Homo sapiens: one gene and its partners. The protein of the gene in region 3 interacts with the protein of the main gene of each other region in a biochemical or structural test. Each region holds a gene or a part of one and is shown on either strand. Other genes may lie near its edges. The genes, in order: WWTR1, DLGAP1, SHANK1 and CACNA1D.

The links.
Region 1: the proteins of SHANK1 (region 3) and WWTR1 interact in a test that uses a peptide from one of them, tested with the Homo sapiens proteins (2 studies listed by IntAct, with this or other methods).
Region 2: the proteins of SHANK1 (region 3) and DLGAP1 are reported together in a solved structure, tested with the Homo sapiens proteins (one study listed by BioGRID).
Region 4: the proteins of SHANK1 (region 3) and CACNA1D interact in a biophysical measurement, tested with the Homo sapiens proteins (2 studies listed by IntAct, with this or other methods).

The regions. Positions count from the first base shown.
Region 1 is NC_000003.12:149,536,016-149,543,041, reverse strand, and holds part of WWTR1 (WW domain-containing transcription regulator protein 1), read left to right. Parts: intron 1-504; coding exon 505-707; intron 708-7,026. UniProt on the Homo sapiens protein: Transcriptional coactivator which acts as a downstream regulatory target in the Hippo signaling pathway that plays a pivotal role in organ size control and tumor suppression by restricting proliferation and promoting apoptosis.
Region 2 is NC_000018.10:4,445,308-4,452,333, reverse strand, and holds part of DLGAP1 (disks large-associated protein 1), read left to right. Parts: intron 1-7,026. UniProt on the Homo sapiens protein: Part of the postsynaptic scaffold in neuronal cells.
Region 3 is NC_000019.10:50,702,785-50,709,810, reverse strand, and holds part of SHANK1 (SH3 and multiple ankyrin repeat domains protein 1), read left to right. Parts: intron 1-5,296; coding exon 5,297-5,374; intron 5,375-5,624; coding exon 5,625-5,691; intron 5,692-5,980; coding exon 5,981-6,311; intron 6,312-7,026. UniProt on the Homo sapiens protein: Seems to be an adapter protein in the postsynaptic density (PSD) of excitatory synapses that interconnects receptors of the postsynaptic membrane including NMDA-type and metabotropic glutamate receptors via complexes with GKAP/PSD-95 and Homer, respectively, and the actin-based cytoskeleton.
Region 4 is NC_000003.12:53,490,605-53,497,634, forward strand, and holds the start of CACNA1D (voltage-dependent L-type calcium channel subunit alpha-1D), read left to right. Parts: upstream 1-4,006; 5' UTR 4,007-4,562; coding exon 4,563-4,629; intron 4,630-5,210; exon of another isoform or gene 5,211-5,225; coding exon of another isoform or gene 5,226-5,403; intron 5,404-6,547; coding exon 6,548-6,857; intron 6,858-7,030. UniProt on the Homo sapiens protein: Voltage-sensitive calcium channels (VSCC) mediate the entry of calcium ions into excitable cells and are also involved in a variety of calcium-dependent processes, including muscle contraction, hormone or neurotransmitter release, gene expression, cell motility, cell division and cell death.

The DNA of each region.
Region 1 (7,026 bases), on a different chromosome or scaffold from region 3:
TCCTTATATGTCGGCTCCTGATCTAGGTGCTTTGTGTTACATGTTGTTTGTCAATTCACTGGTTTGTGTACCAAAGATCACATGCCCTCCTTACCTCTGCCATAAACACACAAATTAACTGAGAAAGTATACACATGCACACACACACACACACACAAATGATCTGGTGAAATTATCTCATAACTTGTGATAACCTTTGTGGAATTTGCTTTAGACCACTATGTTCTATGTAAGGCTTAAAATGTACTCTAGACAGGGAGGTGTGAAATGAGATTTTAACAGAAACAAAAGCCGAGGCTAGATGAGTCAGGATTGGGGCCAGTATTCGAGCCTCCGTGAATTGAATTAAGGTAATAATTACTTAAACAGTAATGGTTAACAGGAAAGTACTTTGGAAGGAATCTCAGGAATCTATACTCCAAAGCAGAAAACATTCTGATGGTCTATTTTTGATAAGGTATTGTGGGCCCTGGTCATTAATCTGTATGTTCTTCCCTCTTGCAGTGATGAATCACCAACACCAGCAGCAGATGGCCCCCAGTACCCTGAGCCAGCAGAACCACCCCACTCAGAACCCACCCGCAGGGCTCATGAGTATGCCCAATGCGCTGACCACTCAGCAGCAGCAGCAGCAGAAACTGCGGCTTCAGAGAATCCAGATGGAGAGAGAAAGGATTCGAATGCGCCAAGAGGAGCTCATGAGGCAGGTATGGCTTTCCATGGTGTCTGGTGGAGGCTCCCTGGCCTTGGTGCCAAAGCTGATGGGTAGGTAGCTGCTTACCTTCAGGGTAATTCTTCTAGAGAAGAAGAGACAATAGGGCTCAAAGCCCTACTCCAAGCCTCTTGATTAAAATCCAGTTTCTTCTCTCAGTGTTCTGCCTGCCTTTTCAGAACGAAGCTTAAGGGTACAAGGACGAGCTGTATTAGCATGGCTGCCTTTGGCTTCCACTGCTAGTCTTTAGAAGGAGAGAAAGGAGAAAGTAGAGAGACAAGAGTCTGTTGTTGTGTAACAAATTATCCCAAAATGTAGTTGCTTAAATAGCCATTTCATTATATCGCACAATTTTGTGGGTCAGAATTTAGAAGGGGCTCACCTGGGATATTCTTCTGCTCTACATGGCATTGACTGAGGTCATTTAGTGGTATTCAACTGGTAGGTGGGTTGGTCTGGATAGTTCACAATGGCTTTACCTAAGTGGGTGGCATGATGGTGAGGATTGCTGGAAGACTGGGCTAAGCTGGAACAAAAGCCTGGGATCTATGGTGTGGCGATCTCAGAGTAGTGGTACTCATTCCATAGCAGCTGGGTTTTCAAGAAAAAGCATTCTAAGAGACAGGAAGTAGAAGTTGCCAATTTCTTGGGGCCTAGCTCTGGAAACGGTCGTGGAGTCGCTTTTGCCACACTCTCTTGGTCAAAGTAGTCACAGAGAACCCCCCGAGATTCAAGCAGATAGTGGAGTGGATGTTCCTCAGAAGAAATGACAAAGGATCTTGGTCCACCACAGAGCATGAAAAAGAGGGAAGCTGAAGGGAGAATGAGAAGGGAAAGTGGTTTGTATATGGACTCCAACAGAGTGCTCTGCAAAACTGCCTGGGCATCAATCAGGCACTTTTGTACCATACTCCATTCATTCAGTTTTCATTCCGTCAGTCAGGAGTGTGTTGCCGTGTGCCCTCTGTGGGTCAGGCTCAGTGCTGTACTTCAAAAACGAATACAAGAGAATTCCTAAAAGAACCCACAGTGCTCTCCCTGTTTCAGTGGCTTGGTCTATGGAAGAGCAGAATTCTTTCTTCTGTGTTGCTAAACTAATATAACCCATGTTTTCAGGTCTCATGCTTTTTTTCTGGCTACATTTTTGGGGAGAAAAGCTTCAGTTTATTGTTTTAACTTTTCAGACTTTGTTTTGTGACTCACATGAAGCAAGATACATGAATAACTTCCTTTTGCTACTTTAGAGAAATTAGAGAAATAAGTAGTTTTAACATTCCAGAGAACTTTCTTGGAGGAAAGGACCGAGCATGTTAGGGTAAATGCTGTTTTTTTAAAGCTACATTTGATACTTTCAAAAATACACATTGACTTCCATGAATGAATAATGTATTTCTCATCAAATACATTCCAGGATATAAGAAATCTATATTGTGTGAGGTTTAAAATGCATGGTAAATTAAAATCATTTCTCAGATATAGTCTTTGAAAATAAGGAAAATGAATATAAATTGTGCTTTGTTGCTCAGCTGAACTTTCCTCCAAATTTGAGGAATACAACTTAATAATTAGGTAACTACAGTTGTGTCTTTTACCCTGAGGATTTATGTTTGAACTTTCACGGTTATTTCAGGCTAACGGTTGTTTATACTGATTTTAGATATATAGTGTCATGTTTCTTGATGGGAAGTAATTGTATTGTTAATTGTTTTCTGTCTTTGAATAATAATTTTATTTGGAATAATTTTTCTGTTTTATAATGTAAGGTAAATTAAACAGTATCCCAACAGCATTTTATACATTCTCAGTTTTATACTTAAATGAGCTTTAGTGAGTTTTTTCTTTACACAAAGTTGTGACCATTCTGCAAAGAATGACTTGCTTCTCTGTTTTTGCGGGTGTGTTTCTCTTTCTCTTGCTTCTCCTCCTTCTTTCCCACAGAAAGTATTTCTGAAAAGGGGTGGGAAAAGTGCCCCAAATTGTTTCCTTTATTCCAGCTGTAGGTGCCTTTGAACCAGGATGTAGTACTGATGGTTCATATTACAGAAATGCCAACCAAGTTCCTTAAATGCTGATCCTTGGAGGCTGTGGAACGTGGGGCGTTGTGCTGCATCATAGTGAGCAATTGCATTGTTGCATTGTATATGAAGCAGGAGAAAAGATTGTCCAGATTTGCTCACAGGGACTCATGTAGTTCAGCCTTGACTCTGTGTGTGTGTGTGTGTGTGTGTGTGTGTGTGTGTGTGTGTGTGTAGTTAGGAGGAGATGGAATGGTGGAGTGGTTGGTTCTGGTGTTCTGATGCCTTTTTATTTTTGTTAGGGAGTACAGGAAAAGGTCTAAATAGACTTTTTAATCATGGCAGATTTTTTCCCCATGCAGAAGCAGCATGCTCCTGATTGTCAAAGATATGATTTAAGACCATATAATAAATGGCATTGGAGTGTTCTATAATAGTTTTCTGGGGCATTTGCCAGGACACCTGATTATTCAGTATTCAGGTGTGGGCTCTGTGTTTCATCTTGGTGGATTTTTTGAACTCTTTTGGTGATTTTCTGCTTCACTTTTTGAACCTAAGCCATGGCAGCAGCAGGGAAATGGACTGGAATTAAAAGTGATCTTTGGCTCACTTGTTTAGTTGCCTTCCAGCATCTGGTAGGAATTTGGAGAGATGGGGGAAGTGGTGGTTCTGGTGAAATTTAAAGATTATCTGTACACTTCTGTTTGTTCTCTCTGTCCTACCCCTATGTCCTGGGTAGTCAACAACTGCCTGAATATCCCTTGCTCAGTGGACAGTTTGTAATTACACTGGCTCTCCTCTTGCTTGTAGGCGGCCTTAATTGTACAGCCTGTCTTCTTGGGGCCCAGGCCCTGCAGGTAGGCCTAGACCTACCTGCCCTTCTACCAACTGAGCCTGTCTGGGAGCAAGGCCCCAGGCTATGCTCTCTTTCTGTAGTAGAAAGGGAGGTTGGCAAAATTTAATAAGTAGATGAATTTATCCCCTAATTACTAATAAATTATCACGCTGTCTATAGTTTTATCATTCTTGAATGATACGACGAATCTGAAAGATCCCTGTGGAGAATATGCTATATAAATATTGTTTCATTTTTCTTCCTGTTCCTTCTGCTATGCCGTTGTTCCACTAGGCATATAGTTTGATGATGTTGTGCCATGAAAAAAACAACTCCTTGGTCCTTGTTGCATGATTTGATGTATACCACAATGCCAAAGGGTCACCTATTAACTCATTGGCATTGAAATCATGCGAGAACATTAACAAAATGGATCTGAGGAAACTTTGATTACAAATCTAAAGTGAGCCTTCATTATTTCAGTATGGAAGCTCATATTTTTTTTCCTTCCTTCATTCCTTTATCTCTTCATTCATTCAATCAATATTTATTTAGTAGAAAATAACAGACAGGTAAATGGGATGTGACTGCCTTCAGATAACTTGTATTTTTGCAGAAAAGGAAAAATAATTAACTTTAATCCAAGTTAAAGACCAGAAGAGTAAATTAAAACCATTCCCTGCTTCACAGGGGCCCAGTGGCTACCATCTTTGACTTTCATTACTGGAACTGAGACCAGATGCACCTGAGCAGAGTTCTGTGAAAGTGAGCATCAGATACTCCTTTTTCTTTCCAGTGACCCCTCAGGTTACTGGCTACAGAATTAGGATCAAAAGAGCCAGTAAGGTTTGGTATCTCTGCTGATAAGGAATCTTCTGAAGCAGGAGAATTTCCTTAAATGCAGTCCCTCCAATCTAGCATTGGCTGGTGTAGCAACAGAGCTGAGCTACTTGTATCTGATAATTGATGAATTATCTTGGAATGCGGCAGACACTTCAAGTGGAGGGGTACCAGGAATCTAACATGGAAGACATAAAGAGTGCATTTCTGTGAAAGGAAGTCTTTTGTCTGTGATAGAGTTTTCTTTTATTTTTACTGAATTTCCCAAAGGCTGTGAGGCTACTTCAGGTTCACCAAAGAAATGGCAACTCTAGAAAAAAAAAGCAATTCTTATTGAAGTTTTGCTTTCTCTTCATTTTTTTAAGGAAATTAAAATTTGATTTGTTGAGTTTTTTTAAGTAGAAAAAAATTTTAATTTTTGACTAAGCGTGGTGGCTGACGCGTGTAATCCCAGCACTTCGGGAAGCCAAGGCGGGCAGATCACTTGAGGTCAGGAGTTCGAGACCAGCCTGGCCGACATGGTGAAACCCTGTCTCTAGTAAAAATACAAAAATTAGCCAGACATAATGGCGGGTGCCGGTAGTCTCAGCTACTCAGGAGGCTGAGGCAGGAGAATCTCTTGGACCTGGGAGGTGGAGGTTGCAGTGAGCTGAGATCGAGCCACTGCACTCCAGCCTGGGCAACAGAGTGAGACTCTGTCTCAAAAAAAAAAAATTAAAAATATAATTTACTGAGTTACTTTAGTGATTAGCATTTAAAAAAGTGTTTTTGCTAAGTGCAAGAAACCAGACTTCCCCCCAAAACTACATCCTGTATGATTCCATTTATGTGACGTTCTGGAAAAGCAAAACTATGGGGACAGAGAAGAGATGAGCACTTGCCAGGGTTGACAGTACAGAAAGAGTAGACTCCAAAGGGGCAGCACTGAGGAATTGTGGGGCAGATGGCACAGTTCCGTGTCTTGGTTGTGGTGGCTATTTCACAGCTCTACATTTGTCAAAACTCAGACATGTATACCACAAAGAGTGAATTTTACTGTATGTAAACAAAAAGAATAATAAAAGAAAACGAATTGCTACACACAAAAAGACAAAACGTATGTTTATGGTACGGAATGTATAAAATACTAAACAACAAAGAAGGAAATTATAATCACCTATACTCTTACCTAGAAAGAGTGGCTGTAAATATGCTGATGATTTCTTTCTAGTCTTTTTGTATGTATCATGTGTATCAATGTGTCTACTTTGTTTTTTAAAACACAAAAGTGGTAGCATACTTTAATACTGCTTTGTTGCCTCTTCTTAATATATTGGGAAGTCATTTTTTTATTCTGTGTCAGCCATGAAGTTGTGCTGTGACTTTGTATGTACCCATTCCAAAGCGCCTAGAATCCTTTCTACAACAGGCCGTACATAAATTTTTAAATGTCATGAGCCACACACACCCACAATGACTACAGAGTATTCTGTTGTTACAACTGAAAAATTCAACGCAATATTTGCTCAGTATCCTAAAAGGCACAATTGCAACTTTACCAAATGAAGTGGGAAATCGTAGTCACAGGTCAGACATTGAGAAACAGGCTTCTCAATGCCTGTTTATCTAAAAGAACAATTCCTTGACATGAAAACAGGCATATGGCTTTACCTGAAGAGAGTATTTCTTTTCATGTGTGTTATTCATTTAAATATAACGGTTTGGGGCCATCTTTCTGGAAGATTTTAACCTCGAGGACCAGGACCTGGAAGACGAGTAAGTGGCAAAGCCTTGGCTCCCCCTTGTCCCTTCACGGGGGCTGCCTTGTAGAGAAATCATTATTCCCAAAGCAAATTCAGCCCTGCTTTTACCCTCAACCTTTTCTTTCTTTTTTTTTTTTTTTTTAATTTGGGGGTTGGGGGACAGGAGAATGCAGTTTGTCAAACAAAAATGCTGACTAAGCCTGGCCTCGGGTCGCCGGGGCAACAGGGACGAGAAAAGAGGGAGGCCTCGGAATTCTTTTGGCAGGTCTGTGGGATTTCTGCCAGGCTTGACAGCCACCAGGCGCGGCGGGCCAGCTGGCTGACCTCGCACAGCCATCCTGACAGAGGGCTCCTGGAGGGGGACACACCTGGCTGTGAGCAGCACTGGCCTGGGGAAGGTTCTGAGGCCCCCCCCTTTTTTTTTTTGTCATGCAAAGAATAGCTATTTAGCGAGCTAGGAGAGTGTCGTATTGGAGCAGATCATGAAGCATAAATGTAGGCTATTTCATAGCCTTTGCTTCAGAACAGGGGACTATTTAACTTTTAGAAAAGCATTTCATAGCATTAGGTTTCAGAGTTGACTGGGTTAACAGAGGTCACGTAGTCTAATATTTTGTGAATCTATAAATCCCTCCATATAAGCTTGGCTATTTAAGTTCATTCGTTCATATATTTGTTTTACAAATGCTCTAGGCATTAAAAGTACAGCTGTGAACAACAGACCCCAGCCCCTTCCCTCACAGAGCTTCCATTCTAGCTTGTGTCAAGCGTTTTATTTGCTTACATGTCCCAGAAATAATCCATTTTCCAAAATGTCCCAGTGTGCCCTTGTTGTTGAACAATAGTATCAATTCAAGTCTTTTTTTTTCTTTTTCTTCTCTT
Region 2 (7,026 bases), on a different chromosome or scaffold from region 3:
AACTCTTTCAGAAACAAAGAATTCAGTGTTTTGATTCTGATCTCGTAATATTTCAAATTCAGAGATAATAGTAAAATGTTATCTAATGTGTATTTCTATAGTGAAATTTCTATGATCAGCTCAAATTCATGTTACCTTCATGACCATTCCCACAAATTGCTCCACTGTTTATCAGAGGAGAGGAAATTGGTTTCCTCTCAGGAAGCATCCAATTAAAATCTACTTTTATGTAGATTTCATCTCTATAGAAATCACACTTACCTCTCTTTTCTTAAATTAAGAAAATGATACAATTTTAGGTTATTTTGTTTATTTTCTCTTTTTCCATTGGTAATTATATTTCCCCTGGTACAGGAACACCATTGAAATAAGAAGGCTAAAAAGACTCTTGAAAAACCTAAACACGTTTCCCCAATCCTCACTTCTCATAGTTATAATCTATGCCTATGTCTGTGGTATGTTGGTCTTTTGTACATTTTTTTTATTTTAAAGAAACACTATCACAAAAAGATACTTTGCTAGCATTGTAGAAAAATCTTTATGTTGTTGTTGAAACACCTGAATGTTCAAAAACATCCCATATCTTGAGCTGTTTTATTTCCTAAGATCCTAAGTGCTACTAGTTCTCTATTTTCAGAGAGGAATAACTACAGTGTCCCTCAAAAGATGTTTTTTCTTTCTTTTTTCCGAAGCATGAGAATTTGTAGCTCGATTCTTGTTACTGCCCGATGAAGGTGACTTTCTCTAGTTGTGTGGTCTATCAGGAATTGCCAAAGATGCTGTTCCTAGGAAGATCTAAAACATTGCATTACCACAGAGGAGGATTTAGAAATAGTCTTCTGACATTCATTTTAATCTATTAGACACCCACAGATAACCGATTGTATGAGATACCAGGTACCAGTTCTTTTGCTTCTAAGATGTAACTATTTAGCTTATACAATGCTGTATACTGTATATTTGCTACACCTTTCCCTGTAACCCTGCCAAACACACACCTACAGAGCAAAACATGTGATTGAGAACAAGAAAAAAATGAGGTGTGATTATAAGGCAGTTAAAAAGGTGAATGACATCCCTTTGAGGTCTTCTGTTCTTTAGTCTGATTGTACAGAGGTTGGTATTGCACAGGAGCCGTGTTGACCCAACCATTTCCCATCCTTCTCTCTAGTAAATGGTAGGGGACAGATAGCTGTTGTATAAGTGAGAAACAGGGTTATCTTCATCCATTATTGACTTAAGATTTTTCCTGGTTGCTTTATTATTTTCTCCCTCCTATAGGAGTTAATGATTACTGGGCAGCAAGTAACATCCCACTTAGGAAAACCAGCTCATGCAAAAGGAAGCCCTGTGGATCTATATCCACAGATATTTGGCTCAGATCCTTGGACTTTTTCTTGGATAGACAACCAGCATAGCTGGGATGTGATTGTCCCACTGGATATCTAATTGTGAACTAGATATCAGTGTTCTGAATATGTTATGAAGATGCAAACCACCTTCCTCCCTCTCCCTAGGATTTGCCAGCAACCAAACTGTTCATTTTCATATTCACTTATCATGGTTTGCTCATCTGTTGCCATTGACAATTTCTCTGTCTTCTCTCAATGTTTTCTTATCAGATTTGTAAGCAACAGCACAACAGCAAACCACAAAGTGTGTGATTTGGAACTGCTCAATCTTGCCAGGTTTTCTTAATATTCAGCAGAGTTGTGGTCTTACTGAAGCCATGGATAAGCATTTGGATGAGGAGACATTGTGCTGTGACTTGCTTATCTCCCTAGCCTTGCATCTGAATCTCTGCACTAGGAGGGCTCAGAGACATTTAAATGGCTCCCTCAGGCGGCTTGTGGGAAGGTCTCTCTGGGCACATTTCCAGCTTTGCTGCTTTACTCTGGTGACACGGTTTTAGCTAATTTGAAAACATCTGCTAGAGTAACTTGCTGTTTTAATTCTACTACTGGAGAACATCTGAGTATGTGATAGGAGGACTGGCACTAACCCTCATTCTAACCTCATGATTACACCCTTTCCCTGGATACCCCTTCTTTCTTGGTTTCAATTTCAGTAGAAATCAGTGTGGAGTCTATTTCTGGACTGCAAATTTCCCTGCTAGATATCACTAAGATTTCTTTACAAAACACATGCTGCAGTTTCAGAGGAAAATGGCATTTTGATCTTGTCTCAGACTTTGCAAACAACCATTCTTTGATATGATTCATCATACTATACTAGCAAAAAGACAAGGCACATTCACTCTCTTCAAAGCTATTTTCGTGTAGACATTAACCCAGAAGGCAAAGTCACCTTTTCATCCTTTCAAATTAGGATGTGCTTTCCGTTTAGAGTTTGGGAGGGTCAGCAGGGGAATCTTGAAGTGGTAATGCATTTGGAAGTCTTTCCTGTGAATCCTTGCCTAGGTAGTTCAGATAAGACTCACTTGATTCTAGAGCTTCTATGGAGCAGGCTAAGAAATCTTTCCCCCTCTCCTTGGAATGCTGTTTCTTACATTGTTCCCTCTTTCCTGGACTTCAGCTGAAAAGTCATTTAATCAGGGAAGGTCTCCAGCTGAATGCTGTTTTAGCACTTTATTCCTTTTTCATGGTCCTTTTACGGTCAATAATGATGTGTTGACTTGTGAGTGTCAGATTGCTTTCCCCACTGAACTGTGCATTCCGTGAGATCAAGAACTAAATATAGAATGTTCACCAAATATCACTGATGCCTAGCACAGCACCTGGCACTTAATAAATGGTGGGTAAACATTGGTTGAGTGAATGAATAAACAAGTGAATGCACATCTGTATTCTTAGTGCATAAGGGCCATAACTCTGAGGATGGTGTTACACAGCTTTTGCATGGCACTTCTTTGCAATGTCAGATGCTGTGTTCTTTGGTCCTAAGTTTACTCTGTTAATACCTGGTAAACACTGAGCTGATCCCAGCCTGAATATAAGGTGATGGGCTACGCAGTGCTACATTTCCCAACTAGGCAACATGCACTCTGCTGGCAAGCAGAGGTAAGGTTTTGAAATACAATAAGGATTTTAAAAAGGAAGCAAAGAAAAAACAAACTCCTGTTCCCTCTTCTTCCTCCTCCTTCTTATTCAAAATTAACATATTAGTAGATTAATTGTCTTACTTTATTCTGACCCTTTAAGGCTTAGCATAAACTTCTTTCCTACCCCTCACCTCTTACATTGAGTTCTCCTTTTTGTGTCTCCATTGAGTCTGATACGTAATTATAACCTAGTTTTGTTTTTCATTTTCTGCGTATATGCCTGTCTCCCTCTAGGAGACCAGAAGCTCAAGGGAGACCAGAGACAGTGGCCCCTATGTGGTTTGTAAGTGGAAGAAAGCAAAAGTTCACCAAGGACTCAAAGAATAAATCAGATCACAGGGATGAGGTGGAAAGTGTTGTGGGAGGCAGAGAAGCAGCTACAACTGCCTTTCTTGCTTGAGGCTGATCTCTATGTAGGTACGTAGATGTGGGTTGGCTCTCACAGGGGAGACTGGAATCTAACATCTTTACTGATGTGGAATCACAGCCTTCTAGGTATTTTCATGAATTTTTTATACTAGTTTTGTTTCTGGCCAGACATGTAGTGTATTCTGTTCTACTATCTGCTTCTGAACTACTGGAATGATGTGGTGAGGTGGGCCAGCCTTGGGGATATGTTAACCTTCCATGTGGCACCCTGCTGTAGATACCACATCTACCATTCAGCTTCGAATGGCCTGTGAGGAATGGTGAGACAGAATGCGAACATGCACCATGTTTTTATAAACTATGGTGCATAATAATTCCTCTAGATTTGCATGTGCTTTATAGATAATTGAAAACACTCTGCTTTGATGATATGAATCCTAAGGGATCTTGATGATAGATGTCAGGTATTTTGGTAGGTATATATCCAGCCTTTCCAAGTATGGGCAAACAAAAAATATTTGTAACATCTCCTGGGTACTTATTACTGTGAAGAATATAGAAGAGCAAGACCTAGTTAAACTCCTTGGGTAGCTTGAAATGTAATACAAAGAATACGATTAAAATGTAGGAAATAATTAGTAATAATGGGTTACAGAATGAAACTGGTGCTCAAATGTACTTATTTTGGGCTTTTCTGTAGGAGTAGGGGCTCAACAGAGAATGAGATCATTTTGGAATGCTTCCAATAGGGAAGATCTGAAGCTAGATTTTCATGGATTTGTAAGACTTACATAGGAAGAAGGACCGACTTTCAGATAGAGAAAACATTTGCATAGACGTGGAGGTGCAAATGAACTTGGCATGTTCCTGGTCCAGAAGATGGTTCTCTCCTCCAGTTCCTCCACTTTAATTAGACCTGAAGATGAATTTGATTGAGAGGGTCATTAATGGCTATACAAGAATGTTTAGATTTGATAGGAACCACTGACAGATTCTGAATAGGCAGTGACGTGAAGAAGTGGCCTCTTGGACTGATAGGAGTAGATGGGTCTAACACCAGACTGGGACAGAGAGAAGCATGAAGAGGCTGTTTTAGTGAGGCTTACATTATTGGGAATCAAGTCCAGGGAAGTAGAAATGGGAGTAAATATTTTGAAAAATTTTCAAGCAATATTTGACTCTTTCCTTTCTCTTTTACTCTGTACCTGTGTCACACATTCTTTTTAATTCTTTATTATTCATTAAAAATTCCTGTGAAATATTTCAGGAACACCAAAAATTAAATAATATTATAAACCCCTTTGTGTCCACCACCCAGATGGTGAAATAAATCATTGCATACACTGTTGAGACTTCAGTGTACTCTTCATGTCTTCCCTCAGAGGGACTCAGCCCACTGAGTTTTGTGTTTATTGTTCTTATGCATGCATTTCCTTATTCTTTGCTATGTATGTATGTGTACCTAAGCAATATAGTCTTGTTTTGCTTTTTTAGACTATTTATAAGTAGTAATAATGCTCTTGTAGTCTTCTTTACCTTACTGTAATTGTTCAGTATTTTGATGACATGTAGATCTGATTTATTCATTTTTACTGATATATGGTATTCCATTGTAGAACTGTATCATGATAAAGGTATCAATCTTTGTTGATGGACATTTAAGATGTTTCCAAATAAGGCTGATGTGAACATTCACGTGTACATCACCTTGTGCTAACAAAGGGGACTCTGATTAGGGTGGAGGGGGATTGCAGTAGGGTAATAGTCGTATCTTCACATCTAGCAGATAATGCAAATTACCAAAAATGGTTGTACCTATTTATGATCCCAACAGCAATCTATAAGAACACCTTTTGTTTTATATCCTTGTCAACACTTGGTGATACATTTTATTTTTGGCCAATCTTATGGATATGAAATGATATCTCATTGTAGTTTTAATTTGTTCTTCCATGTCTCCTGGTAATGTTGATGATTTATTCCCTCTCTTTATTAATATTCTAGTTGCTGTGGATTCCTTATTCATACATGTTCCCCACTCTCCTACTTCTTTTTGTTAAACTTATTGATTTGTAAGAGCTGTTTATATATTCTGGATACCAGAGTTTTGTTCTGTAATAGGCATTTCAGTTATCTCCACTCAGTTGGTGGCTTGTCTTCTCATTTTTATGATGTCTCTGGATGAAAAGATTATGTTTAAATTTAAAATAGTTGCATTTTAAATTCTCTTTATGGTACCAATAAGATATGTTTGAGAAATGTTTTCCAATTCTGAAATGACAAAGATATTATTATTTAGTTCTTCAAGACTTTTATATCCATAGTTATTTTATAAAGCCTTTAATTACATTCTAAATTTAGGCAAAACACCCATCTTCTCTTAGTCTTAATTTCTTACTCATTACGTTAGAGAGCAAGGTGGTTGTACTGTATGAGTTCTGCTGCTGCTGCTGCTGCTGCTGCTTGACTTCACAACTTCATCATTTTATGCCTGGAATACATAGCAGCTTCTTAATGGGATGTCTAATCTCTAGGATCTGATTAAACTCACATCAAAATTTACTTTTCTAAAATGCTCTTGAGGTCATCATGAAACTCCTCAAACTTTGTCCTGGAGCCCCCCAAAAGAGCAACAATCCCATTCGCTAGTATTCCCCTGCCTACTCCAGACCCGAGTATGCCTAGAACGTGGTTGGCCTTCAGATGTGTCAGTGGGACGAGTGTGTGAAGACACAATTGGTTCTCATCATTGCTTACCCTCATTTCCTAATAATCTCTTGCATCAGCCTCCACCATGACCACTCCTGTTTGTCAGGGCTCTGCTGTTCCAGCTATTTTTCCTCTTTGTTTATTTGCATGTACTCAAGCTCCATCTACTTGATGAATTGTTAACAGTGGCTGCTCCTAGAGACTAGGACAAGGAGCCTCAGGGGTTTTCTTTCCCTTTCTGTCCTTCTATCTAGTTGACTGTTTTACCAGGAGGAAGGATTTCTTTTAAAATAATTGTTTTAATGTCCTTTGTATCCTTCAAGGCCCAGCCAAATCTCACCTCTCACAGCACACATTTTATGACTACTCAGCTGAGGGTAAACTCTTCTCTGAATTCCAGTTGCATTTATCTGGATTACTTACTTTATTATAATATTCACATTTTTAACATTTTATGTGAATATTCTGAGATTTTAAGCTCTTTTAAGTAGTGAATTAGCTGATGTTTTTTGCATGTCTCATAGGCTTGAGCCCAGTAGCTAGTAGAGTGACTTTTCAAGGGGTAGCAGCTGCTTTCTTGATGATTGGCATGGATGAAATTGGAAATCATCATTCTCAGTAAACTATCGCAAGAACAAAAAACCAAACACCGCATATTCTCACTCATAGGTGGGAATTGAACATTGAGATCACATGGACACAGGAAGGGGAATATCATACTCTGGGGACTGTGGTGGGGTGGGGGGAGGGGGGAGGGATAGCATTGGGAGATATACCTAATGCTAGATGACGAGTTAGTGGGTGCAGCGCACCAGCATGGCACATGTATACGTATGTAACTAACCTGCATAAGGTGCACATGTACCCTAAAACTTAAAGTATAATAA
Region 3 (7,026 bases):
GGGAGGCTAAGGCAGGAGGATGGCTTGAGCCCAGGAGTTCGAGACCAGCCTGGGCAACGTGGGAAAACCTGGTCTCTATGAAAAAATACAAAAATTAGCTGGGCACAGTGGCATGCACCTGAAGTCCCAGCTGCTCGGGCAGCTGAGGCAGAAGGATTGCTTGAGCCTGGGAGGTGGAGGCTGCAGTGAGCTATGATCATGCCACTGCACTCCAGCCTGGGTGACAGAGTGAGACCCTGCCTTAAAAAAAAAAATTAGAATTAGACAGCAGGCAGAGTTTTCTTAGTGGGACAGTTGCACAAGTCATTTTCCCCTCCTTGATCTCCTTTCTCAGCTGTGAAATGGGTCAATAATTAATATCTACCATGCAGGCCGGGCGCAGTGGCTCACGCCTGTAATTCCAGCACTTTGGGAGGCCGAGGCGGGCGGATCACTAGGTCAGGAGATTGAGACCATCCTGGCTAACACGCTGAAATCCCGTCTCTACTAAAAATGCAAAAAAAAGTTAGCCAGGCGTGGTGGCGGGCGCCTGTAGTCCCAGCTACTCGGGAGGCTGAGACAGGAGAATGGCGTGAACCCGGGAGGCGGAGTTTGCAGTGAGCCAAGATCATGCCACTGCACTCCAGCCTGGGTGATAGAGCGAGACTCCGTCTCAAAAAAATAAATAAATAAATATCTACCATGCAAAAGGATCAAGTGGGTTAATAGGTTTGCTTGCCTTTGCCATGGGCTTAACAAACCGATGCATAACACATACGAACTTGATTCCTCCATTTCCCCCCTTGTCTTCCTCCCAGGCTTTAAGCTTTCCAAGAGCCAGGGCTGAGTCTGACAGTTTTTCCTCAGCCTCTGCCGCCTTGGCCTCCTGATATGCCCGTCTAGCATTTGGTGGTGAATGTCAGATCCGTGTCTAGGCTGTGAGCACCTCAAGGGTGGGGGTTGAGTCTGATTACTTGCTCTGTTCCAGGACCCCAGCAAACAGCAGGCCTAGTTCCATCTTTGTTGAGTGAGTGAATGAATGAATGAAAATGAGTGAATGAATGATGGGGTCAGCCCTCTTGGATTTCCACCAAGACTGTGCACAGTGCCTGGCTCAGAGCATTCAACAGGTGTTTGCTTGTTTCAACAGACTGAATGACTCAACCAATGAATGAATGACTCGAACAAATGAATTTTGACTGACTCAACCCCACATCCTCCATCCTCATCCTTTCCATGCACGTTCCTTGAGCACCTACTATGTGCACAGCACCAGGCCTTGGGGATGTGAGATGAATCAGACACAGCATCTGGCCTGGGGAGGGCGAGGGCGGGGTTGGGGGGGGTGGGAGTTCACAGTCTGGTGAGGAGGCAGACGTGTAAGCAAATCATGGCTACGACATGAGATAAGTGCTAGGATGCCGTTAAATGCGAGTTTCTCTTGGTGCCCAGGGGAGGGAGCCATCAACTCTGACTTGCACACCTTCTCAGCTTTGTAAGAGTAGGATGAGGAGCAGGTGACCTTAGGGGCTGTGCTCTGGCCCTGTGCCCCCAGTGTGGGTGTTGGGGCTGTGAAAACATGCAAAAAGCCAGGCGCGGTGCCTCACACCTGTAATCCCAGCACTTTGGGAGGCTGAAGCAGGCGGATCACGAGGTCAGGAGTTCAAGACAAGTCTGGCCAAGATGGTGAAACCCTGTCTCTACTAAAAAGACAAAAATTAGCCAGGCATGGTGGCGGGCACCTGTAATCCCAGCTACTTGGGAGGCTGAGGCAGAGAATTGCCTGAACTCAGGAAGCAGAGGTTGTAGTGAGCTGAGATCGCGCCATTGCACTCCAGCCTGGGTAACAGAGTGAGACTCCATCTCAAAAGAAAAGAAAAGAAAAGAAAAGAAAAGAAAAGAAAAGAAAAGAAAAGAAAAGAAAAGAAAAGAAAAGAAAAGAAAAGAAAAGAAAAACACGCAAAAGTACACATGGCAGGAGTTAACAGTCTAGTTGGCCAGCAGCACGGGCATACACAGACTCACATGCACACACACACTCCCAAACACACCCAGAACACACACTGGGCTAACTCTGCTGCCCGATGTGTGACTTTGGCAGTCAGAGTCGTCCATTCATAGGAGATAGGTGAACCATAGGATCAGAAGGCCAGGTGCACAGGAGGATTGCTTGAGCCCAAAAGGTGGAGGCTGCAGTGAGCCGAGATCACGCCACTGCACTCCAGCCTGGCAACAGAGCGAGACTCTGTCTCAAAAAAAAAAAAAAAGGAAGAAGAAGGCCAGGTTGTTGGAATCCTAACTGCTCCACTAACTGGTTGTGTGGCCCTGGGCGTAGCATCTGCCCTCTCTGAACCTGTCCTGTAACATAGGCCCATACAAACCCCTTGGTGGATTTGTCATGTGGAAGGGGTAAGATCAAGGAGGTGCTTGGGAAATGGTGGTTAAATTAGCATCAGAGGGCGCTGGGGTAGAGTTGAGCTGGAGGCCAAGTTGGGTTTGGCCAGGCCAAGATAAAAGGGAGAGGACACTCCTTCTACCGAATAGTCCCTGTGGGTCCAGCATTAATCCAGGTGGTGGGTGCCACAGGCAAAATCATGCCCCTGTACAACTTATGGTGTAGAGGAGAAGAGACACTACTGAGACAAATAACAGGAAATGGAATTTCAGTGAGACGGGGTTACGAAGAAAATGAGTTAACATTGGCTTAGAGTGCCTGGCACATACATCAGTGTGGTACTAAAAAATAAAGCAAAGGGTTGAGCACGGTGGCTCATGCCTGTTATCCCAGCACTTTGGGAAGCCAAGGCAGGCGGATCACCTGAGGTTGGGAGTTCGAGACCAGCCTGGACAACATGGGGAAACCCTGTCTCTACTAAAAATACAAAAATTAGCCAGACATGGTGGTGGGTGCCTGTAATCTCAGCTACTTGGGAGGCTGAGGCAGGAGAATCGCTTGAACCTGGGAGGCAGAGGTTGCAGTGAGCCGAGATCGTGTCACTGCACTCCAGCCTGGGTGACAAGAGCGAAACTCCATCTCAAAAAAATTTTAAAAATAAATAAATAAATAAAAATAAAGCAAGGAAGAGGACAAGGGTTTTTTTTTTAGACAGGATGGCCAGAGAAGACCTCTCTGAAGAGGCGGCATTTGTGCAAAAGCCTGAACGAAGTGAGGAAGCAAGCTATGCTGAGATCTAGCGGGAAAGGATTCCAAGCAGAGGGAGCAGCCGTGCAAAGGTCCTGGGGCATTAGTGTGCTGTCAGAGGAAGGAGGTGGCCAGTGTGGCTGCAGCCTGGGAGCAAGGGCAGGTGGTAGAAGATGAAGTTGGTGAGGGTCAGGGTGGGGAGTGGCAGGGCAGGCAGCTCAGGTTAGCTCAGCTAACCCTAACCCTCCTAGGCCGTGGCATGGACTTTGTGCTTAGCCCAAAAAGTGATGATGGGTGCCATGTGATTGACACCGGTGAGAAATTGATCTGAATGTAGAAGGCATCCCTGTCCCCACTGGCCCAGTCCTGCCCCCACCCTTTCCTCCACAATGTGTGTCCCCTTCCTTCTGGGCCTGGCAGAAAGTGTGATTAAGATAGAAGACTTTGGAGTCAGAGAGATCTGGGTTCGAATCCAAGGCTGATAATCACCAGCTGTGTGACCTTGAGCCCCCCCAACCCCCCCTTTTTTTTGAGACAGGGTCTCACTTTGTCACCCAGACTGGAGTGCAGTGGCATGAACAAGGATCTTTGCAGCCTCGACCTCTTGGGCTCAAGTGATCCTCTCACCTCAGCCCCACAAGTAGTTGGGACTACAGGCGTGTGCCACCAAGCCAGGCTAATTTTTTAAAATTTTCTGTACAGACGGGGTTTCGCCATGTTGCCCAGGCTGGTCTCAAACTCCTGGGCTCAAGCGATCCTCCCTCCTCGGCTTCCCAAAGTGCTGGGATTACAGGAGTGAGCCACCACCCCTGGCCCACCTTGGGCTCTTTTGAAAGCCTTAGTTTCCTCCTCTGTAAAATAGAGACAATTTCCATGTCCTGGAATTGTTGGGCAATTCAATGAGCTTCTGCCTCTAAAGTGCCAAGCGCCTGGCACGTAACATGGTAAGCCTCCGTAAGGTCTAGACCTGTGGTTCTCAACCTGGGAGCTTCTGTCTCCCAGGGGACACTTGGCAATGTCTAGAGACATTTTTGGTTGTCATGACTGGGGAGGGGAGTGCTACTGGCATCTAGTGGTAGAGACCGGGGATGCTACTCAACATCCCACAGGGCTCAGAACACCCTCCACAAACCAATGAATCACCAAAGGATTATCCGGCCCCAACATCCAGTGGAACATAGCATGAGCACATACCCTAAATGCCCTCAAATATCCTAGTGGCCATGTTAAAGAGAAGGGGAAAATAATTAGGTGACATTTATTTTAACAACATATTTTACTTATAACAGTGTATCTAAAACATTATCATTTCAACATAGAATCAATACAGAAATTATTATTTTTTTTTGAGACAGAGTCTCACTCTGTCACCCAGGCTGGAGTGCAGTGGCAGGATCTCGGCTCACTGCAACCTCCACCTCCTGGGTTCAAGTGATTCTCCCACCTCAGCCTCCTGAGTAGCTGGGATTACACACGCCCACCACCACGCCTGGCTAATTTTTGTATTTTCTGATAGAGACGGGGTTTCACCATGTTGGCCAGGCTGGGCTCAAATACCTGGCCTCAAGTGATCCACTCACCTCAGCCTTCCAAAGTGCTGGGATTACAGGTGTGTGTCACCACACCTGACATTTTTTTTTTCTGGGGGGGAGACAGGTCCCTGCTCTGTCACTCAGGCTTGATCTCAGCTCACTGCAGCCTCCAACTCCTGAGCTCAAGCGATCCTCCCACCTCAGCCTCCCAAGTATTCGGGACTCCAGGCACCCACCACCTGCCTGGCTAATTTCTGTTTATTTTTTTGTAGAGACGGGGGGCGTCTCACTATGTCACCCAGGCTGGTCTGGAACTCCTGCCTTGGCCTCCCACAGTCTTAGGATTACAGGCTTGAGCCACCACGCCTGGCTATAGACATTTAAATTCTTTCTTGTTTTCATATGGCATATCCTTGAAATCCAGTGTGTAGTTCGCATGCATGGTGCATCTCCGTTTGGGCCGGCCACGTTTAAACTAAAGTGCTCCTGGTCCGTACCTGGCAGGTGGCTGCTGTCCTCAGTGGTGCGGGTTTAGGGTGGAGTATTTATTCCTGAGGCTCTTAGCACAGAACCTGCATCCACTCATGGTGATCTTAATTTTTTCTCTCTCTCTTTGTCCTGTGCCACTGGCCATTACCCGCAGGAGACCTGTGCCAGGATCCTCCTGTATCGAGGTGCCGACAAGGATGTGAAGAACAACAACGGACAGACCCCCTTCCAGGTCTGGGGCTGCAGGGGATGTGCTGGAGTTTCCAGGGCTAAGGAAAGGGTGACAGTGACACCCAGTGGATAAGGAAGGGGACAATGAGGAAAGCAAGGAGACAGGCCGTGGAGGGGGAGCTGGAAGAAGACAGAGGGCGGCATTGTCGGAGTGGAAGGTTTGGGTCGGGCCAGGGACCTCGCCACGTTCCCTGCCCTCTCTCTGCTGCCTGGGCCCCCCTGGCCGACCTGCCTCTACCCCCTCCCTCCAGGTGGCAGTGATTGCTGGGAATTTTGAGCTGGGGGAGCTGATCCGAAACCACCGAGAACAGGATGTGGGTGAGTGACAGGGAGCTCGGACTGCACAGAGAACCTGGGGCGGTTGAGGTTTCATGGTGGGATGGGGGAGTTGGGGGACCTGACTTGGGGGCCAGGATAGGATGGAGAAAACCCTAGAGGACCAAAAATGTCTGGATGGTGGTGGGGGAGCAATTCCAGGCCCCCCTCCCTTTCTCATCTCTGTCTTTCTCCCTCATGCCTCTCTCCCACCATCTCTTGCCCCCGCATGGCCCCCTGCTTGCCTTTTCTCCCCTAACATCTGCCCCCCGCCGCCACTGTGCCCTCTCAGTGCCCTTCCAGGAGTCCCCCAAGTACGCGGCCCGGCGACGGGGGCCCCCAGGCACAGGGCTGACGGTGCCCCCGGCGCTGCTGCGGGCCAACAGTGACACCAGCATGGCGCTGCCCGACTGGATGGTGTTCTCCGCCCCGGGGGCCGCGTCCTCTGGGGCCCCTGGCCCTACCTCAGGGTCCCAGGGCCAGTCGCAGCCCTCGGCCCCCACCACCAAGCTCAGCAGCGGGACCCTCCGAAGTGCCAGCAGCCCCCGGGGTGCCAGGGCCCGCTCTCCATCCCGAGGGAGGCACCCTGAGGACGCCAAGAGGCAGCCCCGAGGCCGGCCCAGGTAGGGGAGGCAGCCCTGGCTCCACAGTCCCCAGCCCCGTCAAATCCCCTCTCCAGATCGGCGGCTTCCCCCGAGGCCAGCCCAGCTGCCTTCCTCTGTAGGCCCTCATCCAAGTCCCTAGTGTCACCTTGGGGTAAAGCAAGGCCTTGGGAGCTACTGTCCCGACTCCACCCCCGGTGCACCACATGTTAGCTGGATGTCTGCTCCAGGACAGGGGCCCCAGGCAGAGGGTACCCCAAAGAAACATGGGCCCCAGCCCCTGGGGACAGACAGAATGACAGGGTGAGGTGGAGGGAAGCTGAACAGGAAGAGGATGGGGGGGGTGGCAGGGACTTGAGGGGGACAGAGAGGTCACTCTGGAGGGAGGATGAGGAAGGGGCGGGGGACATTCCGGGGTCAGGAAGCCCACCTGGCTAGAGGAGGGTGAGAAGGAGGCGAAGGCCAGCCAGGCGTGTCCCGAGGAAGTGGGGGAGAGGCTGGCAACGGCGGGCAGAGGAGTTGGACCTGACCCAGGAGGAAGCTGGGAGTCGCGGAAGGCTCGTGAGCGGAGGGATGACACAGTCCCAGCTCAGCCTCAGGAAGCTGAATCAGGCGGTGCGCGCAGGACCGTGGGAGGGGGCAGAGCCGGAAGCCAGGAGGCAGGAGAGGGGGCTGGTTGGGGCAGCTGCGGGCAGGCAGAGGGAGCCCCCAAATGCCCTCTTCCTTGGAGGACGCC
Region 4 (7,030 bases), on a different chromosome or scaffold from region 3:
TGTCTGGCATGCCAGCTCAGTGCGTTCAAGTGGGAGTGCTTTATAAATAAGGTCATGGAGATTAAGACCCCACAATAGTGTGTTAGCAACATAATTGGGTTGTAGCACATGTAGCTGATTTAGAGCTGAAATCTTTTGTTTTAGCCTTTCCTCATGTCTTGTTGGCTCAGCTACTAAGTAATTGTGTGTGGTTTTGGGCGAGCTACTTAACTCCTCAGTGTCTTGGTTTTGTTGTCTGTAAAATGAGTTTTGTTTTTTTTTTTTTTTAGAGTTTTGCTCCGTTGCCCAAGCTGGAGTGCAGTGGCACAATCTCTGCTCACTGCAACCTCCACCTCCCAGGTTGAAGTGATTCTTCTGCCTCAGCCACCCACGTAGCTGGGACTTAAGGCGCACGCCACCATCCCCAGCTAATTTTTGTAATTTTAGTAGAGATGGGGTTTCACCATGTTGGCCAGGCTGGTCTCAAATTCATGGACTCAAGCCCGCCTTGGCCTTCCAAAGTGCTGGGATTATAGGCATGAGCCACTGAGCCTGGCCAAAATGAGGGTTTTATAGTACCTCGTAGGCTTGTTACGAGAATTAAATGAGTTAGTACATATAAAGTGCCTACCCTAGAACCTGGCACACAGGAAGCCTTTAAAAGATCTTATTATTTATTTATTCAGTAGTTTGCATTATCATGGGAATATAAATATTTAAATTACCCAATGGGCCAACGCATCTAGAGCTGTGCTGAATCAAGGCCCTCAAAAAAAAAAAATGCTTGCTGGAGACATCGCCAAGATGAGACTCATTCAGAAACTGGGATGGAATGTCAAAAACTCCAATTCAAGGCTGAGCAGTGGCTCATGCCCGTAATCCCAGCACGCTGGGAGGCTGAGGCAGAACTGCTTGAAGCCAGGGCTTGCAGCTTACAGTGAACTATGATCACACCACTGCACTCCAATCTGGGCAACATAGTGAGACCCTGTTTCTAAAAATAATTATTTAAAAAAAAAACCCCAAACCCTCCTGCAATACCATAAACTTGTTAAGATCTAACGCACAAAACCTGGAGACCGAAACCACAATTTAATCATGTCACTTTTGAGCTAAAACAACTTCACTGGCTCTCACTGCCAAGAAATTGAATCTGGTCTTCTTAGCCAGCCAGCCTTCCTCCACAGATTTGGGTTGGCCTTTCCAGCCTCCTCCTCCTCTAGCCCAGGGGGTCTTTGCCTCAGCCACACTGTGCTCCTGCTCATTTTTAAACACACCCACCTTGCACTTCAGTCTCCCCTGTGCCTTTGCTCTTACCCCCAAAGCTCATTCCTCATACATCATTTATGCCCTGTAAAAGTAGTCACCTGTTTTTAATAGACTTTATTTTTTTTAAGAGCAGTTTTAGGTTTACAGAAAAATTTTGCAGCAAGGACAGAATTCCCATATATTCTCTCCCCCAACAGTTTCTCCTATTAACATCTTGCATTAGTGAGCTACACTATATACACAGTTATAACACTGGTACACCCCAGTGTTATAATTGATGAACCAATATTGTGGTACTACTATTAACAAAAGTCTATAGTTTGCATTAGGGTTTATGCTTTGTGGTGTACAGTCCAACGGGTTTTTGACAAACGCATAATGTCCTACGTCCATCATGGCAGTATCATAAAGAATAGCTTCACTGCCCTAGAATTCCCTGTATGCCACCTATTCATCCCTCTTTCTCCCGGTCAGTTTTTAAGAATCAGTTCAAATGCCCTCTCTTCTGTGAAAACATCTCAGTTCCCTCAGTTACAATTAATCTGTCTGATGCTTGTATAGCGCTTTTTCATACTTGTTATAGCTGCTATGTTTGCATGGTATGAAAGAAGTATACACGGCCGGGCGCGCGGTGGCTCACGGCTGTAATCCCAGCACTTTGGGAGGCCGAGGCAGGTGTATCACCTGAGGTCAGGAGTTTGAGACCAGCCTGGCCAACACGGTGAAACCCCGTCTCTACTAAAAATACAAAAATTACCTGAGGGTGGTGGCGCGCGCCTGTAGTCCCACCTATTCAGGAGGCTGAGGCAGGAGAATCTCTCTTGAACTCAACAGGCAGAGGTTACAGTGAGCTGAAACTGCATCACTGCATTCCAGCCTGGACAACAGAGTGAGCAAGACTCCGTCTCAAAAAAAAAAAAAGTATACAAACTTTTCTTCTGTCATTAGGTTGTCCTTGAGGAAGGAACTGTGCCATAGATTTGTCCTGACATCTAGACCAGACCCTTATTCTTAACCGGTGCCTTATGAATGCTGGCTGCACTGAACTGAACAATGAGCAAATATGGTTCGGCTCAGTCATCCACTAGATACAGTATTTTTCCCTCTAGACAGGAGCTGCTGTTTGCAAATCTCCCCCATTCCAAATCTGAGCCAGCAAAGGTATCATAAAACAAACTTGCTCAGGGAATTTTGTAGAAAAGGCCTCAAGAGGCAAGGCTTTAGACCAGGAGTTCTGAAAGTGACATGTGTACTTGTGAATTTCATACATGCTCCTTGGATGGGCTAGTTTCTTTGGAGGGAACCGTCTTCTATTCCCTTCAGATTTTGGATCAGAAGCAGCCATAGGAGAGGTGGCCCAGGCCAGCTTTATATTGTTACTAGACCGTAGGGCGATTTCTCGCCTCTCCAGTCTCCAAAAACAAAGCACAAAAAAGGACAAGAGCCTGGTTGTTTTCATCCTCACGGACCAGACACCCCCTCAGGAAGGCCTCTGGAGAGTCTTCTGTCTGGTCCCCAGTCTCTCTGCCCAGGTGCCCCCCAACAATTGAGGATGACTAGTGTGTTCTCTTTGGGTAAGGAGCACCTTCCCATAAACACTTATTTTTCTTAATTCACGCTGAGCTTTTACTTTATTTTCGCTTTAAAGTCACTGTTCTGAAACGTTCTAAAACGCCGTAGGAACATGCAGATAGGAACAAAAGCAAATAAATCGAATCCTGTGAAGTAACAAAGCAGACGCCCTTCTCCTAACAGGCAGCACAAAGCTAAATGAAAAATATCAGTCATCCACTAGATAAAGTATTTTCCCCTTTAGACAGGAGCTGCCGTTTGCAAATCTCCCCCACCCTAAATCCAAGCCAGCGAAGGTATCAAAAAATAAACTACTCCCTTCAGCTCCCAGACTGGAGGCAACAGTTTCAGCAGCACCGTCTATTTCCTTGAACAACACGAGCGGTTTGAAAGACCTTGGCTTTGACTTCCCTGTACCTGCCTCCAAACACACGTGGGGGCGGGGTGGGGTGGGGGGAGATATTGCCCCCCATCCCCGTTGCCTTCCGCGACGCCAGGCCAGGCGCAGGGCAGGGGAGAAGATGGGGGGCGCCCTGGATTCGCGGTTCCAGCTGCAGGCAGTTACCTGGGGTAGTGAGTGCTCTCTACAGACCCGGGCTACCCCAACCCCCCCGATTCCAGAAAGGGCCGGAGAAAAGCAGGGGGCGCCTGCCCCGCTCCGGAGCAGCCAGGGAGCCCGGCCGAGCCTTGACGAGGATGAGCTCGGAGACCGCAGCAGCTACCGCCCGCTAGCACCTGAGCTCCCAGGGGGCGGGGCCTCCTCCAGGTGTGCGCAGAGGAGGCCGGCGCGGAGTCGGGGCCGGCGCGGGAGCCCGAGCTGTCCCCCAGCCCAGAAATGCGCGGGGAGGAGCGGTTCATCCGCACCCCAGCGCCGCGGGAGACACTGGCGCCGCCTGCCTCCTCCGGGTCCCGGGGGGAGAGCGCACCGTGCGGCGCGGAGGGGGTTAACCGGGCAGCCCGCCGCTGGAGCGCGCTTAACCCTTTGGAGCCCGCAGGTCAGCCGGGCCAGGCTGGGGTGGCGGCACCCCGAGTCCCACGCGACGGCCACCCCGAGCGCGCAAGTGGTGCCGGGCAGAACCGCGCGCCGGGCTGCAGACCCGCCGGGGCGCGGCGCGGCGCGGGCCGTGGGCGGCTCGGGGCGGGCGGAGGGCGGGGGACGGCGGCGGGCGCGCAGCGTCGCCAGGGCGAAGCCGGCGTGCGGCGCGGCGCGGCGGGCGCGGAGCGAGCGGGCGGGCGAGCGCCTCCGTCCCCGGATGTGAGCTCCGGCTGCCCGCGGTCCCGAGCCAGCGGCGGCGCGGGCGGCGGCGGCGGGCACCGGGCACCGCGGCGGGCGGGCAGACGGGCGGGCATGGGGGGAGCGCCGAGCGGCCCCGGCGGCCGGGCCGGCATCACCGCGGCGTCTCTCCGCTAGAGGAGGGGACAAGCCAGTTCTCCTTTGCAGCAAAAAATTACATGTATATATTATTAAGATAATATATACATTGGATTTTATTTTTTTAAAAAGTTTATTTTGCTCCATTTTTGAAAAAGAGAGAGCTTGGGTGGCGAGCGGTTTTTTTTTTAAATCAATTATCCTTATTTTCTGTTATTTGTCCCCGTCCCTCCCCACCCCCCTGCTGAAGCGAGAATAAGGGCAGGGACCGCGGCTCCTACCTCTTGGTGATCCCCTTCCCCATTCCGCCCCCGCCTCAACGCCCAGCACAGTGCCCTGCACACAGTAGTCGCTCAATAAATGTTCGTGGATGATGATGATGATGATGATGAAAAAAATGCAGCATCAACGGCAGCAGCAAGCGGACCACGCGAACGGTGAGCAGCCAGAGCCCGGGCACCCGCTGCCAAATCCGATCCTGTCATGGTCCTCCAGCCCCCTCCCCCTTCCCCGCGGCGCTGGATGGGTTGAGGGGGTTGGAGAGGGTGCTGCCAGCTCGGTGTCGTCTACACAGAGAGGGGACATGCGTGACAGCCACTCCGCGCTCCCCTCCAGGCCCTGAATGTCAGAGTTAATTCTGCATTTGTGGGGTGGGGGCGGCCGTGGAGTGTGTGGAGCGCGGTGCAGCCGGAGGGGCGGCGAGTCGGGGTGATTCGGGTTCAGTGTCCTCGGGCTCAACTTTCCTTCAACGCCCCCGAGCGATGGCAGGAGGGCCGCAAGTCTTCAGCCGGAGCCCCCTTGCCAGCCTCTTCTCGCCTTCCACTCCTCCCCCGCCCCCTCGTTGACTAGGAAGAAGGTCCCTGGTGGCATCCGGAAAATTCTAGGATTGCCCGGTTTCGCCCTCCGCGCCGGTGGGTGAAGCACACCCATCCCCTCGCGGGGGAGGCCCGGCCTCGGTATCGGGGAAAGGGGTTCGGGTGGAGCGTGCGTTCCCGCTCCCGTCGCCGGCTGTGCACACGTCGGTAACCTAGCAATGCCCGGGGAGCCGCTGCCGCTGTGGGGCTCCCCTCCCCAGCTCTGGCCCGGGCACCACGTGCAGCTTCCACGCCGGCCGGGGCTGGGTCGAGGGAGGATGGAGCAGCTCCTGGCCAGCCCTCCCCTTTGGAGACCGCCAGTGCCCCCCAACCCCTGTCGGCTGGAAGCCTTTCCGGGTGAGCGCTCCCCTAGGGAGAAGCTTGACATGACTCGACTCGTCCCCGCTCCGATTGCCCGCCGCTCGCCCGCTTTGCCCTCTTCTCAGGCTTTCAGACCCGTGCTTGCTTTGACTCTTTACTTAGCAATAATTGGCTTTGCAAACGCCCATCTCTCTACCTTGCTGTCACCTCTCTCACTTCTGCTTCAGTGAGGAGACTGTGGCGGAAGGCGGCAGGTGCCTGGGAGATCTGCCTGGGAGATGGCCTGACCCAAAGCTGGCGGGGGCTTCGCATAGGGAGCCTCCTTGAGTTTCTGCCTTGTGTGCACCTGGATACCAACCTACACGGAGATAATTCCCTCTTAGGCCTGGAGGCCCCTGGCATAATCCAGTCAGTCTATCCTAGGTGTAGGGGTGCAGGCTGACTGCCTTGTCTGTCTCTCTGGATGCTGGCTTGGCTGATGCTGCTGCAATTTAAAATGCAAAAAAGCCCTAAAGATGTTTTCTGTTTTCGGAAGCCTGTGGAGGAAATGAGTCCCAAGCATCATGAATTTTCATTTGCAGGAAGTGTCAGTGCATAATCTAGATATTTGTTATGGGGTTTTTGGTATTGCCTGGGTGCCTATGGAAGATTTTTTTTCGGTACTGAAAAAAATGCATTTGTGGCTGTGGAAAGATGTTGGAGTAACACTCTGAAAATGATTAAGACTATTGAATTATTGGTACTGCCTTTTTTTTTCCCCTTGGTGATGGTGGTAGTTATGTTAGAGAAAAGCTGTTGTATGTATCTGTTACTCATTAGAGATAGATGGGTTTTACAAATCAGAGATGCGGAGTAAATGTGGGAATGACCTCAGTTTTGTCAGAAGAAATGCACTAAAAGACCCTTTGTGAAGACATGATGTGAAGGAGTACTAACCCCACTGGGTGTGATGCAGCGGTGATCCTGTGTGATTGACACTGAGACCAGAGCTCGTGGACTTTTCTTGACTCTCCAGCTGACTAAAGCCCAGCTTGTGAAAAATAGCACATGAGATTCAAAATGGAAACATAGGAGTGAATGATTCCCCTGTTATTGATGGGAGACAACCTTTGATTTTTTTCTCCTACCCACTGGATCCTCATTTAAAAAAAAAAATCTTTGTTTTTCTCCTTCTCCCCAGAGGCAAACTATGCAAGAGGCACCAGACTTCCTCTTTCTGGTGAAGGACCAACTTCTCAGCCGAATAGCTCCAAGCAAACTGTCCTGTCTTGGCAAGCTGCAATCGATGCTGCTAGACAGGCCAAGGCTGCCCAAACTATGAGCACCTCTGCACCCCCACCTGTAGGATCTCTCTCCCAAAGAAAACGTCAGCAATACGCCAAGAGCAAAAAACAGGGTAACTCGTCCAACAGCCGACCTGCCCGCGCCCTTTTCTGTTTATCACTCAATAACCCCATCCGAAGAGCCTGCATTAGTATAGTGGAATGGAAGTATCCTTTTTTTGGGGGAAGTCTTTCTCATTTTCTCTTTTACCATCTGTTTTTTAAAAGGATTTGCTTTCTGAAGTGACACAAAGCTGTAGCAGTCTGGAATGCGAGTAACAGAAGTTGTATATAAGGGGTTTCATTGTATATACCTTCCTGTCTCTTCGGGTTGCAGAGGG